Homo sapiens: one gene and its partner. The protein of the gene in region 1 interacts with the protein of each later gene in a pairwise test. Each region holds a gene or a part of one and is shown in the gene's direction. Other genes may lie near its edges. The genes, in order: DNAJC13 and SCAMP1.

Region 1 (8,369 bases):
CCCCTGCTTCTGATTGAGGTACTTTAAATTAGTAATTGAAACAAGGCTGTGCAGATAAACTGCAGCACAAATTTGGTTGCTACAAATAGGTTTTGGCCTAAATGTTCACTGTAAAACATGGCAGTAGTTAAAGGGGAGTTATTAATATTTTGAAAGAGTTCCTTGAGTCAGTGTTTCTCAACTTTATTAGACCCAATAAAGGCTCCCTTTTTATAAAAAATAATTAGTAACACCTTCTTTGCTATCTTTAGTTTATAAATAATGTAACTACCTCTGGCTTTGGCCCTGAGACAAAAAAAGAAGCTTTGCTCTCACTTCTGCAACAAAAAAAGACCTACACTACAAATTCATGACTTTTTTGAAATCTATTAAAGAGCTGAGTCCACAGAGCAAAACCACTGGCTGAAAATTTGAGAGACAGTGCTTACAGAGAGTAGATGTCAATTTCTGTTTACCGTCTTCAGACACAACTGGACAAAAAGCATGATGAAAGCTGAATGCACAATCTTGCAAACTCTTATCCACAAACCTCCCTGGGTCTACTAGAAAAGACTGGAAAGAACCCTGGGTGAGTCTGCTGTGCAGATTGAGAGGGAGAGGAACAGCAACAGAACTTTTAAGAGGGTCAAGAAACTGCTGTGATTCTTCCCCTCTGCCTCTTCTATGGAAAAAAGCTTTAATCTCTGGGGAGAAGGGTATCTCTGTTGGCCCCATTGGTGAACATTCAGGGGGTAGATGAGAAGTGGGAGAGAATCTTATGCCTGGAGGAGGGGCCCTGAGCCCAAAACTGCAGTCGGGAGTGGTCAACAGAACCGAGAGTGCTGCCCTCCTGAGATTCAGGAACACAGTGTTTGACTTAGACTTAATCAGAACATCAGACTGTATCCCCCACCCCCAACCCCCTGCCACCAAGCTAAGAAGCTTTCAGTAACAAGTAACCCACAAAATACTACTAGGAAAGGAACAAGATTATGCAAAGAGGCACAACACAAAGAATCAAACAGGCATTGCTCTAGTAAACCATCGCCCACCAGAGAGACAAACTGTTCTGCAGATTCATGAAGGCTGTAATACACTGAGGATAACTATGGCAAAAACAAATCATAAACTAAGTCCAACTCCTAACCAGATTAACACAAACCCTTCACCAAAGGCCTCACAAAGAACAGGCGTGCTCATTTCCAGTCATAAAAATTACCTCAATCTCTACTCCTACACAACATGTCCAGCTTTTAACCAAAAATTATGAGGCCCATGAAAAAAACTCCCAAGAGAAAGAGCAGTCATCATTATACATTTTTTAAAAAGATAGGAGCTTAAAAAGAACTGTTTTGTACATGTTAAATACTATAATAATGACATTTTGCCTTGAAAAAGTTTGAGCAAACAATGCAGTGAGCATTGGATGGAGTTATAGTTTCTGAATTACTGTGAAGTAGTAGAAGGAAAAAAAGTTATAAGATGGAGTGGAAAATTAGTAACATATATGTGAATGTATGTGGTTCATTGACCACCTGAAGTGTGTGTGTGTATTTTGTGAATTCCTGCATGACTCAGTTGGGTACAATTTTCTGCGTTCACTTAGTGTTGGGACAGAATCACTATAAGCAAATGTGACATTTTCATTATGCTCAAATTGTTCAGTAATACACCAATCCTGTTAAAATTCACATGATCAAGAAAGCATTATAGCAGAATTGACTATATGCATTTCAATATGTAAATAGTTAAGTATGATTATACCAAAATACACAAAGGACGTGTCAGAGGCTTGTATCTTTACATGGAATCATTTTGAGATTTTTTTTGTGTGTGTGAGAGACAATCTTGCTCTGTCACCCAGGCTGGAGTGCAGTGGCACGATCTTGGCTCACTGCAACCTCTGCCTCAGCCTCCTGAGTAGCTGGGACTACAGGCGCTTGCCACCATGCTGGGCTGATTTTTTTTTTTTTCTGTATTTTTAGGAGACAGAGTTTCACCATGTTGCCCAGGCTGGTCTCGAACTCCTGACCTCAAGTGATCCACCCACCCAGGCCTCCCAAAGTGCTGGGATTACAGGTGTGAGCCACCATGCCTGGCCCATTTTGATTTTTGACAGAAATGTTGATGTCTACAGATTTGTCACATTGGTGACTCAAATACCACAATTGAGATTATTAGCATTGTCAGAAAAGAACAGGGTTAATAAAGTATAATCTCTTAATTTACATTGCAGCCACATTCCTGGAAAAATCTCTGTATATTAAACCCTGCAAAATGTACTTGGTGAGTTATATATAAAACAATTAGAGTCTGGGATTCATTCATTATAAATAGGTTTTTGCCTACATGACTAACCAACTAAGCATTTGGACTTCTGGACTTTTTTCTTTTTCCTTTTTTTTTTTCTTTTTTCAGACCTCACTCTGTTGCCCAGGCTGGAATGCAGTGACACGATCATAGCTCACTGTAGCCCTGATCTCCTGGGCTCAAGCGATCCTCCCACCTTAGCCTCCTTAGTATCTGGAGCCATAGGCACGCCATGCCCAGCTAACTTTTTTTTATTATTATTATTTTTAGTAGAGACGAGGTCTCACTATGTTGCCCAGGCTAGTCTCAAACTCCTGAGCTCAAGCAATCCTCCCACCTCAGCCTCTCAGAATGCTGGGATTACAGGTGTGAGCCACCATACCTGGCTCACTTGGACACTTGAAAGTCGTATGGTGTGGATGGTACTTATCTTTGGGACTGTAATGTATGTTGAATATCTAGTCTCATCCACTAAATGCTAGTAGTGCTCCCAGTCATAGTGCCTCAGATGGGATGGCATCCTAGCCCAACCATTACTTTAGTTCAAAATTTTAATCAGTGGTTTTCAACATATTTTTTCTGTTTCAGCAGTGTTCACATACCCAGCATATGCCAATTTATAACACTTCTTGTTATGTGGAGTGATTCTTAATCATAGGAACTCCTTTGAGAGTAACTGAGTTAGATTTCTTTGTAACAAATAGTTTAAACCAACATGGTTATGATCATCTTTGCTAATTTAAGATAGTTACCTGTGCAAAGGTACATTTAGGTGTGGTTCAGTCAATAAAACCATATAGCTTGCTAGTAATTCTTTTCAGATGCTCTTTATTCAATAGTCGACATATGGGAGTTTTACTTGTACTTTCATGGACTACTTGTGAAAAAGAGTGAGCTTTAAAGTCAGTGGAATTTTACAGTTTAAGCACTCAAGTTGCCCTTAGAAGAACACTGCCTAGTCACATATTTAGCACATGCCCAGTGGTAATATCTCTTTGCAATGGATTAATAAGAGTTTGATATTTTGATTATCAGATAGAAAACAAAACCCCTAAAGCAATCCAGAATTATTTTAGCTGGGTGCACAATAATCACACGTGTAATCCCAGCACTTGGAAGGCTGAGGCGGGAGGATCACTCGAGGCCAGGAGCTCCAACCTAGCTTGAGCAACCCCGTCTCATCAAAAAATGAAATAACTAGCTGGCTGTGGTGACGTGTGCTCGGGAGGCTGAGGCAGGAGGATTGCTTGAACCCAGGAGACTGAGATTACAGTGAGCTATGATTGTGTTGCTGCGTTTCAGTCTGGGTGACAAAGGAAGACCCTGTCTCTTAAAAAAAATTATTTCGACGCTTTGATTTTTGCCAGCTCTAGTTGCCACAACTTAATGGAAGGGTTGGTGAGGTTATGAATGGAGGAGATGTTCTCTAATATTTCATGTATTCTGTAATACATTTAAACGCTTATACATGGTGTTCTCACTTTTATTGTATTCCTTAGTCATCTAAGGCTATGGGGTTTCTCTCCTCAAACTTCTAGTCAAGCTACAGAATGTATTTTGAATGTTTATCAAATCTTAGAGCAGATAAGCCATTTTCCCCCCAAATCTTAGCACTAATGGGCTTAATTTTAAAAGTGAAACTTTGCTTTTTTAAGATAATTTGGTAGTGTTCTATAAACTGTAAAGCGCCACAGAAGAGGTAGGAATAATAGGGATATTTCAGAACTAAACTAGAAATGTATGTTTTTGCTATTTTGTATTGAGTGAAGGGGAAATTGTAGCAAATTAAACTTTTGTCTTTTAATAGTATAAAAAGAACAGTGTTTGGGTTTTCAGGATGCTTTCTGTAAAACTGTCTTCAAGTTGTATGTGTTAAAAGCTTAGGAAATTTAGTCCCGCATTATGCATTTACTGTAATGATAGGAAAAACAGCAACAAGTTAAAATATGGCTGCTAAAAATTTCTTTTGCCCATTTCAGGGCCTGTTTACCATAGTAGAGCATGATTATTAAGTGCCTTAATAAGCTGATAAGCTTAATAAGTTGATAAGCTGAAGACCTTACAGAAATAGTATAGTTTGTTCTTGCATAAGCCAGGTTATGCTTCAAAGATAAAATGAAATAGAAATTAGGTCTATAAAGTTACAATAATGTGTATAAACTAAAAATATGTAAATGATCAATAGCAATGATTTCAAAGCATTGCTTAAGTGAACATGTTTCTGGAAAGAAAGCTTTCAGGTGAGTATTTTAAGGCATTTTTAAGCTTTGGAAAGGGAAGGGTCATAGTAATACATCTTTCACAGAAAATTTGAATTTTTTTAACAACAGATAAACTTCTGTTTTGTCAGAAATACAAATTATTCCCCTCAGATGAAATGAGCATACATGTGATAGAAATAGAAGAGACAGGTCTCTTTTCAATACTTGATTTATACTGTTGAATAGAAGAGGTCAAAAAAAGTAACTGCTATGGTAAGTATGCTTGTCCCCTCCTCCCATTAAGTGTTTCTTCAGATTTAGGGGTTGCTTTTGAATTTTTCTTGCCCTGTATTTCATTAATATATACTCAGTTTGTAATAGAAAGGAATCAAGTTTTTAAAAACAATGGTGGAGATCTCATATTATTTCAGCTACCCTATGGTAGTGAAACTAGTTAAAAGTTGATTATGATGTGACAGTACAATCACTTCACTTTAAAATATCTGGGCAATTATTTGAAGATATGATTATCAGATGAAATTTGATATTACCGCTGGCTTTTTTTATTCTTCAACGACATCTATCTCTGGAGGTATCGGGTTCTTCAGTAAGTTAAGGAAGGCTAAGATGGTAGGTACTAAAATCTTTGTGATGTATTTATGGTTTGTTTTAAGATTCCTGTTGGTATCATACATATTACACATACTGATTTGTTGTTCATTTAGAAGAAAATGCTTTTACCTGTACTTGAGTCATATATTAAAATGAAGCTAAAATTTAAAAATAGGGTTAAAGTTCATATGGCAGTTTCCCCCATACACAGCACATTCTATCTAAACAGTTTAGTTGTAGCTATTTAATCTGGGTAAAAATGAACATTCTGTTAGCCATTCATATTTTTTACCATTTGTTTGAAACCAAACTAATCTAGTGCTATGATTTACTCAGATTTTGAATCCAGTTACAAACAAACCTAGATCCTCAAGAAGCCAATATAAGATATTCTATCTATTACTCTTATTAGTTATTTTTTCAAAGGGTTAGTCTTTCCATGGTTCTCCTTACTACCCCTCCCTTTTTGGTAAGATATAGCTGTAGGAAGTATTACGTTCATAAATTAGTTCCTATGATGTGAATGTCTGCTACATTTTAAGTGTGGTTTTGGAATGTAGCATTGTTTCTGTTGTAGGAGAGTTTGATCAGAAAAGGCAAACTCCACAATTTTCACCCAACATATTGTAAACATTTTCACCTACAGCCAGGTTGAAAGAACTTTACATTAGATACCCACATGCCCACCTAAAGGTTTTTACATTAACATTTTACTGTACTTGCTTTATCACAGATCTGTCCATCTTTCCATCAATCCATCTTATTTTTTATGCATTTCAAAACAAATTCACATTTTTAGTTATTGAGGGCAGAGCTAATGAAAGTAAGTTCCGTTCTTGCATTTTACAGACTCAAAATGGGAAAATCAGTAGCTTACCTGTTCTCTGCAAGTTGTCATATTTGTGTAAAAATTACTTCCAGTTGATGATGCTAAATACGTGCTTTAAACAGGTGACTAGCCTGATTAATGCCAATCCTTCTTTCACTAGTGTATTTTTTTCTAAGTGTATTCATTCATCCCTAGTTAAATGAGTGTTCTGCTTGTGTTTTTGCTTAACACAAGCCATGTGTATATACTTAATTTTGCTGTGTGTGTAAATTTTTTTGCTTATAGCTTGACCGTAATTGGCTTGAGTGTCTGTGGTGTTGAGTCCCTTCATCTTGCTTTTGTTCTTAGTGTCAACTTGATGTAGGCTTCTTCTCACTGGACTCCCAAATCCTGTGGTTTTCTGTCAAAATTATGTGTCTTCTAAAAGATCATTCTCATTTTAACCATAAATGATCTTAAATGGTTTGCCAGTATTACTGCCAGTAATAAATTAGAGAATGCAAGAATATTGTGTTGTTCGAAAGCATGATGCAGTAGTATTCATTGAGAGAGGTGAATCTAGCCAAAATGCCTGTGTTGCCCTGAATTTGACTTTTTAACCCATAGGACAGTTCTATAAAAAGAACAAACAGAAGTTTCTTTGGTGGTGTAATTTAGGATATAGCATGAAAACAAGTGAAGCTGACTCGCAAAAATTGGAGATGCTTTCAATGCAATTTAATTACAAAAGGCATGTAAATTTGATTTTTCCTCATCAGAAAGAATCATGGGTCTTTGAGAATTTGAAATATGGAACACAATTGCAGGAATGAAGGAGATGAAATTTAAGTGACGTTAGTTTGAGCAGATAAATTCCTGCTATTTCGAATAGCCTCTAAACAACTGGCAGAATGGCAAATGCTAGTGATACAGCTGCTACCAAGATCTCATTCAAGATCCCATTTAACTGTTTACATTTTTTAGTTGGACAGTTTGTGGTTGTTGATAGCATGTGCTTATATTTGACTGTTACTGATATTACCTGCTTGATACTTGAGCTTCTGATACTAGAAATTTTACAGATTTTTTTCATCATAAATAGTGGAAATCAATGGTTGCTTAAGAGTTTTTGCCTATAAGTGATGATTTTTTTGAATCACTTTTAGAGCTTATTAATGTACAGAGGAAATATTGACTGCAGATTAAATTTATTTTGTGAAGTTTTTTTTTTCTTGAAAGTTTCTCAAGCCATAGTTAATTTGTAGCCATCAAACATAAATTTAAAAATATTAGGTTGGATACATGTAAGGAAACAGTTCTAACAACTGAAATTTCAAATACCTAAGTGGGGAATATTAAAAATGTAGTAAATAAGATTGACTTGTAATAGTATTTTGTAGGAATAAAGTTGAAATAAAAGACAAGCTTAAGTGTTGGGTTATAGTTGACAAGATGATTTTTAAAAATTTCATCTATCCTGATTATCTTGGTGTTTATATATACATATGTGTGTGTGTGTGTGTGTGTGTGTGTGCACGTGTGTGTGTGTGTATATATATATATATTTTTTTTTTTTTTTTGAGACAGGGTCTGACTCTGTCTCCCAGGCTCGAGTGCAGTGGCAAGATGAGGGCTCGCTCACTGCAGCCTCAGCCTCCCAGGCTCAAGTGGTCCTCTGACCTCAGCCCCCCAAGTAGCTGGGACTATAGGCCTGTGCCATGACACCCAGCTAATTTTTTGTATTTTTAGTAGAGACAGGGTTTTGCCATGTTGCCTGGGCTGGTCTTGAACTCCTGGACTCAAGCGATCTGCCTGCATTGGCCTCCCAAAGTGCTGGGACTACAGGCGTGAGCCATCGCACCCGGCAATATTTTTTTCTTTTTAAAAACGTTTTATGGGAAACATAAATTGTAACAATAAAATAATAATGACAGTAACAATAATAAATGGCATCCTCATGTACATCATTCAGTTTAAGAAATATATATTGTTATAGTTATTTTTGAATGGTTAAGTAAAAGTGAATGCTGATTAAATCAATAGAACACTGTACTTTTGAAGGTGAACATTCTAGGTGATATCTATTGCATACTAGAGGGATTGAAATTAATAAAAGATTTAGAGAAAATCAAGTAATTTAATAGAATTTCCCCCCAAAATGCTGTATTAGGTACAAGAGCTGGTAAGTTCTTGAAAATAAGATATAGTAGAATTACCCAAAATAACTTCTTTTTTTGGGTTATCTCATTTAGTCCTCACCATAGCCCTTCGGGACAGTTATTCCTATTTTATAGACGTACTATAATTCAGATAAATTCAGAAACTTTTGTTCAAAGTCACGCAGCCAGTAAATGGCAGTTATAAAAATTCTCCAGCTTTATCTTGGTAATAAATAGATTATTAACATCATTTTAATGGAATGTTAATGTAGCCTGTTGTGCTAGTCTCTAGTTAACGTA
Region 2 (7,092 bases), on another chromosome or scaffold:
TTTTATTTGCAGTATTTGAAGATAAAGCTCTTATTTTCAAGTATATGATATTTCGCATTTGGTAACTATGCTAATTTCTTTTTCATTAAATCCTATTTGTTTTCCATTGCCTTTTTCATTTTTTAGCATTTCTTTTCCTTCACTTTTATGTTAGGAATACTTCTGCAAGCATCTTCGTTTGTGCCGTATCATGAAAGTAGTTTGAGTCTATTCTCCTTATATAATATAACCATAGTGGTTTACTTGATTTTATTGGTTCTTGTAAGGCTATTTGCTGGATTCAGTTCATTTTTTTTTGTTGAGCCCCTGCTTTATATTCTAGTGGTTTTCCTAGGCTTAGTGAATGGTTTTATGAAATTTGAATGGCTTTCATTGCGCATCAAGAAACTTGGAATAACTGGAAATCTGTAGTGATCGAAAAGAAAATAGGTGATTAATTATATAGAAGTTTCTGAGGATCCACTCTTGAGCTGTTAAAATGGGGTTTTAAAGCTATAGAGGGAAAAATATTTTCTGTATAGTCAACATGTAATTATTGAAGAATTGCTGTATGTCCTTTGTTTTCTGTTGAGTTTATTCATTCAACAAATACTGAAGAAGTGTCTCTGTCCTTATGGCTATTAGTCTAACAGTGAGACAAATATGCTTGGAAAATGAATGAAAGGGGAGAGTTTAATAACCAGCAGAGGTCAGCAATATAGGCTCTTACAAGTCAGCATAAGAGTGTATGGTTAAGTGCCGGAACAAGTGCAGTTTGTTCATAAAAGGAAGAAATTAGTAAGTGGTCAGAAAATTTTCATGCTTTATGCTTTTGCATATTAACATGATAATTGATTGAATAAGATAGTTCATTATGGAAATAACATTTAAATTAATTTTTAAAATATGAAGAGAATTAGAATTTCACAGCTGGGGGGGCAAATTCTTAAAATATATTCAGTCAGATCTCATAGATTAAAAAACAAAGCCCACAGAGGCACACTTGCTCATTGTCTTGTGCCCATGTGTAGGTAGTGTAGAATTGGCATTAGAACTTAGGTCTCCTGATTTCTAGTCCATTACTGGTGACACTGTATGTGCTCCCTGGTTGCATTTTGATACCAAAATTCTTGTTTTGTATTTGGAGGTTAGAGTTGAGGGGAGGCAGCAGAGGATAGGATTAAAAAATTTTGGCTCAAGAATTTGAAAAGATCTGGGCTTGATCCTGGCTTTGACACTAACTGGTTGTGAGACCTTGGAAAGTTACTTAACCTCTTTCAGACTCAGTTTACTCATCGCGTGTTCTCACTCATAGGTGGGAATTGAATAATGAGAACACTTGGACACAGGGTGGGGAACATCACACACCGGGGTCTGTCATGGGGTGGGGGGAGGGGAGAAGGATAGGAGATATACCTAATGTAAATGACGAGTTAATGGGTGCAGCACACCAACATGGCACATGTATACATATGTAACCTGTACGTTGTGCACATGTACCCTAGAAGTATTAAAAAAGAAAGACTCAGTTTACTATTTTGTAAAATAGGGTAATAGTACATTCTCTATAGGATTGTAAATAGGATTAGATGAACATACATTTAGCATATAGTAAGAGCTTAATGTATAGTGGTTTTAATTAGGTACTAATATTTAGTATTAATAGTAATTTAAGAAATTCTGTTTAATGGCCAGGCGCAGTGGCTCACGCCTGTAATCCCAGCACTTTGGGAGGCTGAGGCGGGCGAATCACGAGGTCAGGAGTTCGAGACCAGCCTGGCCAACATGGTGAAACCCCGTCTCTACCAAAAACACAAAAAATTAGCTTGGCGTGGTGGCGGGCACCTGTAATCCCAGCTACTTGGGAGGCTGAGGCAGGAGAATTGCTTGAACCTGGGAGGTGGAGGTTGCAGTGAGCTGAGATGGCACCACTGCACTCCAGCCTGGGCGACAGTGCGAGACTCATCTCAAAAAAAAAAAAAAAAAAAAAAAAAAGTTCTGTTTAATAATCTCTATATGCTTAGCTATGAATTTAGTGAAATTTATGTTACTTTTGGATCTTCTGGAGTGCTGGTAGTAGCTGTTTGACTGATCATAGTCAAGGAATCAAAGCTAAAAATAATTAAGTGCTTTGCCTACATCAACCTGCTAGACTAGACCAAGGTTGTCTGAATTCTGGTGCTTTTTCACAACACGTAGTTCCTCCCTAATAAAATATCTCCATGTTAAAATTGAGCATAGTGTCCATTTTGTTTTGGCCTCAAAAATTAATTTTAGTCTATTGAAATTTTTTTTAGAAATGGCCTAAAATTCAGCATTCTCACTTATGTTATCTTTTAAGTTACAGTAATCTGGTGGCATTGTAAGAGTTGAAATTTAAAATTGAAAATGACCCATAATTCAAGTGTGTTATTCATTTGTCTTAGTCTGTTTGGGCTGCTGTAACAAAGTATAGTACCTCACAGTGGGTAATTTATAAACAACAGAAATTTATTGCCCAGAACTCTGGAGGCTAGGAAGTCCAAGATCAAGGTCCCAGCAGATTCAGTGTATGGTGAGTCCTTTTCCTCATTGATGGCATCTTCTTTGTGTCCTCACATGGCAGAAGGGGATGGCAGCTCTTTGGGGCCCTTTTCTTTTCTTTTCTTTTTTTTTTTTGAGACGGAGTCTTGCTCTGTCGCCCAGGCTGGAGTGCAGGGGTGCCATCTCGGCTCACTGCAACCTCCATCTCCTGGGTTCAAGCGATTCCCCTACCTCAGCCTCCCGAGTAGCTGGGATTATAGGTGCATGCCACCATGCCCAGCTAATTTTTGTATTTTTAGTAGAGACGGAGTTTCACTATGTTGGCCAGGCTGGCCTTGAACTCTTGGCCTCAAGTGATCCACCTGCCTCAGCCTTCCAGAGTGCTGGGATTACAGGTGTATGCCACCACACTTGGCCTCTGGGTCCTTTTTTTAATAGGGATATTAATCCCATTCTTGAGAGCAGAGCCCTGCTGACCTAGTCACCTCACAAAGTCTTCACCTTCTGATACCATCACGTTGGTGATAGGTTTCAGCATGTGATTTTTAAGGAAACAAACGTTCAGACCTTAGTTTTCATTTTGTAACATCAAGAATGTTATCCATCTTATTTCATTTACCTTGACAATGATACTTACAAGTTGATTTCACTCCTCCCTTATCTGTTTAAAATTTTGAGGCTGAGCTTGATAGCTCATGCTTGTAATCCCAGTGCTTTGGGAAGCCAAGGCAGGAGGATTGCTTGAACCCAAGAGTTTGAGACCAGCCTGGGCAACATAGTGAGACTTCCATCTCTACTAAAATTTAAAAGTTAGCTGGGTGTGGTGGTGCACACCTGTAATCTAAGCTACTTGGGAGGCTGAGGCGGGAGGGTGACAGAGTGAGACCCTGTCTCAAAAAAAAAAAAAAAAACCCAAAAAACAAACAAAAAAAAGATATAAAATTTTGAGTTTGGAGATTGGATAGCACTAGGAAAGTATTCTGAGGATTTCCTTTGTGATTGTCACATTTTGAAAACTGTCTTTTAACATTAATCTGGAACATAGTGGTTGCAGTTTGTGGGCCTGTGTTATTTTACGTTCATGTCAACTGCATGAATTCCTGCTCATTTTTCCTCATGTTAATGTTTTTAAAAAGCACATATTGAGCTGCTGTTATATTTCATCAACTTAAGATGCCATCCTTTGTAAGATGCACCATTATCTTATTTACCACTGTCTCACTTATCTGTTGCTATGTAACAATCCCAAAATATAATGGCTTAAAATAACAATTATTTGCTCACGATTCTGTTAATTGCGCTAGACTTAGCTGGGCAGGTTTTTTCTTTTTTTTAATGTTCTTTTCTGGAGTCACTAAAGTGGCTTCAGTCACCTGGTTTATGGTTTCAGATATCCTTACTCAAGTGCCTGCTGGTTACCTGGAGATGTCAGTGGGCACAGCAATTAGCTGTCTTTCATGTAGCCTCTCTACTAGTAATAAATGGGCTTTGTGCATAGTAGCAGCAGTGCTCCCAGAGGGCAAGAGCTGAATCTACAAGGCTTCTTGAATCATATGCTACTTCTGCTGTATTCTGTTGGTCAAAACAAGGCACAAGTTCAGCCTAGATTTTAAAAGGAGTGGCAAGCAATAGGCTCCACTTCTTGACTGGAGACAGACCTATGATCTGAAGATACACCTAGTATAAAATGGCGAGGTAGTCGTAGGATAACTTCACTAGACACTCCCATTCAAATAGGGAAAGAGTGGGAGGCGTGTAGCACCTGCTGATGCATAGCAGTTCTGAAATCTAGCCAGGCACGTGTTGTTAGGGTCCCCTACATTGGGGACAATGAATGTTTCTTGATTAGGGCCCAGTTCTGCTACCTCGTATTGGTTCCTTCACCTGTTATTTTCTTCTGCTTTTGGCTCCACCCTCTGAGAGGTCCTTTATTTATTTTTTTCTATAAGAATGAGCCCTTTTGGCAGCTGAGTAGCATTTTTGGCCTGCTTCTTGCCCATTGAAAATTGGGAGCCCAGAAGTTTCTATTAATTTTGAACTGTTTCTTTAGTCCAGGCTGTCACAACTCTCTTAACAGTTTCTTTTTAATCTTACCAGAGTTCAAACCATGCCTTAAAAACCACATTTGTCATTCTTTTTGAGACAATCTTCATTTAGGGTGAAGTGTCCGTTGCCATGGTCGGTATTCTTCAGATGTTTAGAAAACTTTTGTCTAGGTTGAGCATCTCATATGGCCAGGGGAAGGCTGCTGCCATAGGAGGCTGCTGTGCCACGTGACAAAACTAAGATTTGAACACAGTTTTATTTTGGCCCTGTAGCTTTACAGTCATATGAGATGATGGTGATTATGAAAATTTCGAAAGTAAACTGTTCTTGTGCTGATATTACCAAAAGTTTTTTTTGGACTATGATTAATATTTAATAGTGATAAATGCAGATCCAAATAATTTATTGGTTATTTCCTTAATATGAACCACCAGTGTGATATAGTTGCTGAAAAATATATATTGGCTTAGTGAAATTAGTGATCAGTTCCTTAAAATTAATAATCCTATAGTATTCTGTTCTGGTCTAATAGCTGGGTATTCTTCTCAATTGCAAGTGCATATTTAAAGAGTGGTTTGAAAATACTAGGATATGCCCAAAGAGGACAGTCAGAATGGTCATGGGACTGGAATCAAGTTCTAGGAAGAACAATTTAAGTTTCAATTACTCAGTGGATTTAGTCTACAGAGGGCTAAAGGGAAATAGGAGAGCTCCCATCAGATACTTAAAGTGTTCTTAGGTAAGTGAATAAACTTGTTATTTGTTGCTTTAGAAAAAGAATCTAAGGTTAACTGGCAAAGTTTACTTGAAGGTAAAGGTAAATTTTGTCCAAACAGACTTTTAAAAATCTGCTACCATGGCCTGACAATGCTCTTTTGGTAGGGCATTCTCCAGCACTTGCAGAAATTCAAGCAGAAGTTGGATAACCTACAGAGATGCCTAATTTCAATATTGTAATGTCTCAGGGAATAGGGAGACCCAAGGAGAGGGACAGAGAATGGGAACAACTGGTTGGTGGAATAGTCAGGACACACAATTTTTTTTTTTTTTTTGAGACAGGGTCTCTCTCTGTCTCCAAGGCTGGAGTGCAGTGGCGTGATCTCGGCTCACTGCAACCTCCACCACGCAGGTTCAAGCGATTTTCCTGCCTTAGCCTCCCGAGTAGCTGGGACTATAGGCGTGCACCGCCACACCTGGTTACTTTTTGTATTTTTAGTAGAGACGGGGTTTCACCATGTTGGCCAGGCTGGTCTCCAACTCCTGACCTCAGGTGATCTGCCTGCCTTGGCCTCCCAAAGTGCTGGGATTACAAGCGTGAGTCATCGTGCCCGGCCAGGACACATAACATTTATCAAGTAAGTTTGCAGTGTTATGGGCATGGTTTGTGGCACCCCAAGACAATTACAGTAGTAACATCAAGTATCACTGATCACAGATCACCATAGCAGACATAATGATAATGAAAAAGTTTGCAATATTGCGAATACTACCGTAGTGTGACGCTAGAGATGTGAAGTGAGCACATGCTGTTGGGAAAATGGTGCTGCGAGACTTGCTTGATGCAGGGTTGCCACAAACCTTCAATTTATTTTTTTAAAAAAGGCAATATCTGTGAAGTACAGTGAAACTAGGTATTCCTGCATTTTCTCTGTTCTAATATATCGACCATATTGGATATTGGAATTAAGTATGATCAGTTCAGCTAGAGAGGATGCTTTATGTTCAGAGACCAGCTATGCTCTGAGCCTCAGCTTCTGCTGAGGGAGCAGCCCTCATGGTAGCTTACACATTTGTGATCATGTCCTCTAGGGTGTGACTTTTGCCACCCTGGCCTCAGCTGACTGATCTTAACAAAGGTACTTGTCCAAAGCAGTGGAATAGCAGTTATCTCACTAGGCTTTTGAAGGCCATTTTCAAGAATTCCTGTCCTTCATTAGAGGTGTTTTTTAACTAGAAGGGATGTGCCATGTCATGAAGAATTTCAATCTCTGTGAAACCTGGCGTTCTTCTTTCTGTATATATCTTTAAAATATTCTCCTGCTCCCAGCATTTGGGGTGACCTGAGTGAGTCTGTCTGTTTCAACCAGAATTGCTAAACCGTAAGTGTAAAGTAACATTTTCTTGCCAAAAGGGTGATAGAGTTAAGCCTGTATTTAGACCTACAGTTTTTGGTGGTGTAGTGGAGTAATATACTTGCAAATATTGTAAGATGTTTTTAAATCACAAGGGAGAATTTTCCAACTTTCAGTGGGTGTGGGATATAAAAGGTGACATGGAGTTTGGTTAGATTTAACCTTGTAACAAGTCTCTGAGTTGTTCCTACTGAGGCAGTCTGTAATGTCCTGCAGCGTTTGACTTCATATGTGTAGACTGGTGTGGAAAACCCTGTTCTCCTTTCTGTGCAGAAGGCTTGCAGATCTATACCCAGAGAGCAATCCAGTAATCCCCTTCTCCTTGGCATTTGGCTTTGGGTGCTTTTCAGAATTAGTAATGTTTCTTTATCCATTGCTGGACACCTAAGTTGTTTCTGTTTTTTGTCTATTA

The links.
Region 2: the proteins of DNAJC13 (region 1) and SCAMP1 interact in binary tests that used the Homo sapiens proteins (3 or more experiments, as listed by UniProt).

Annotation. Positions count from the first base shown.
Region 1 is NC_000003.12:132,419,660-132,428,028, forward strand, and holds part of DNAJC13 (dnaJ homolog subfamily C member 13), read left to right. Parts: exon of another isoform or gene 1-2,058; intron 2,059-8,369.
Region 2 is NC_000005.10:78,363,525-78,370,616, forward strand, and holds part of SCAMP1 (secretory carrier-associated membrane protein 1), read left to right. Parts: intron 1-7,092. UniProt on the Homo sapiens protein: Functions in post-Golgi recycling pathways. Acts as a recycling carrier to the cell surface.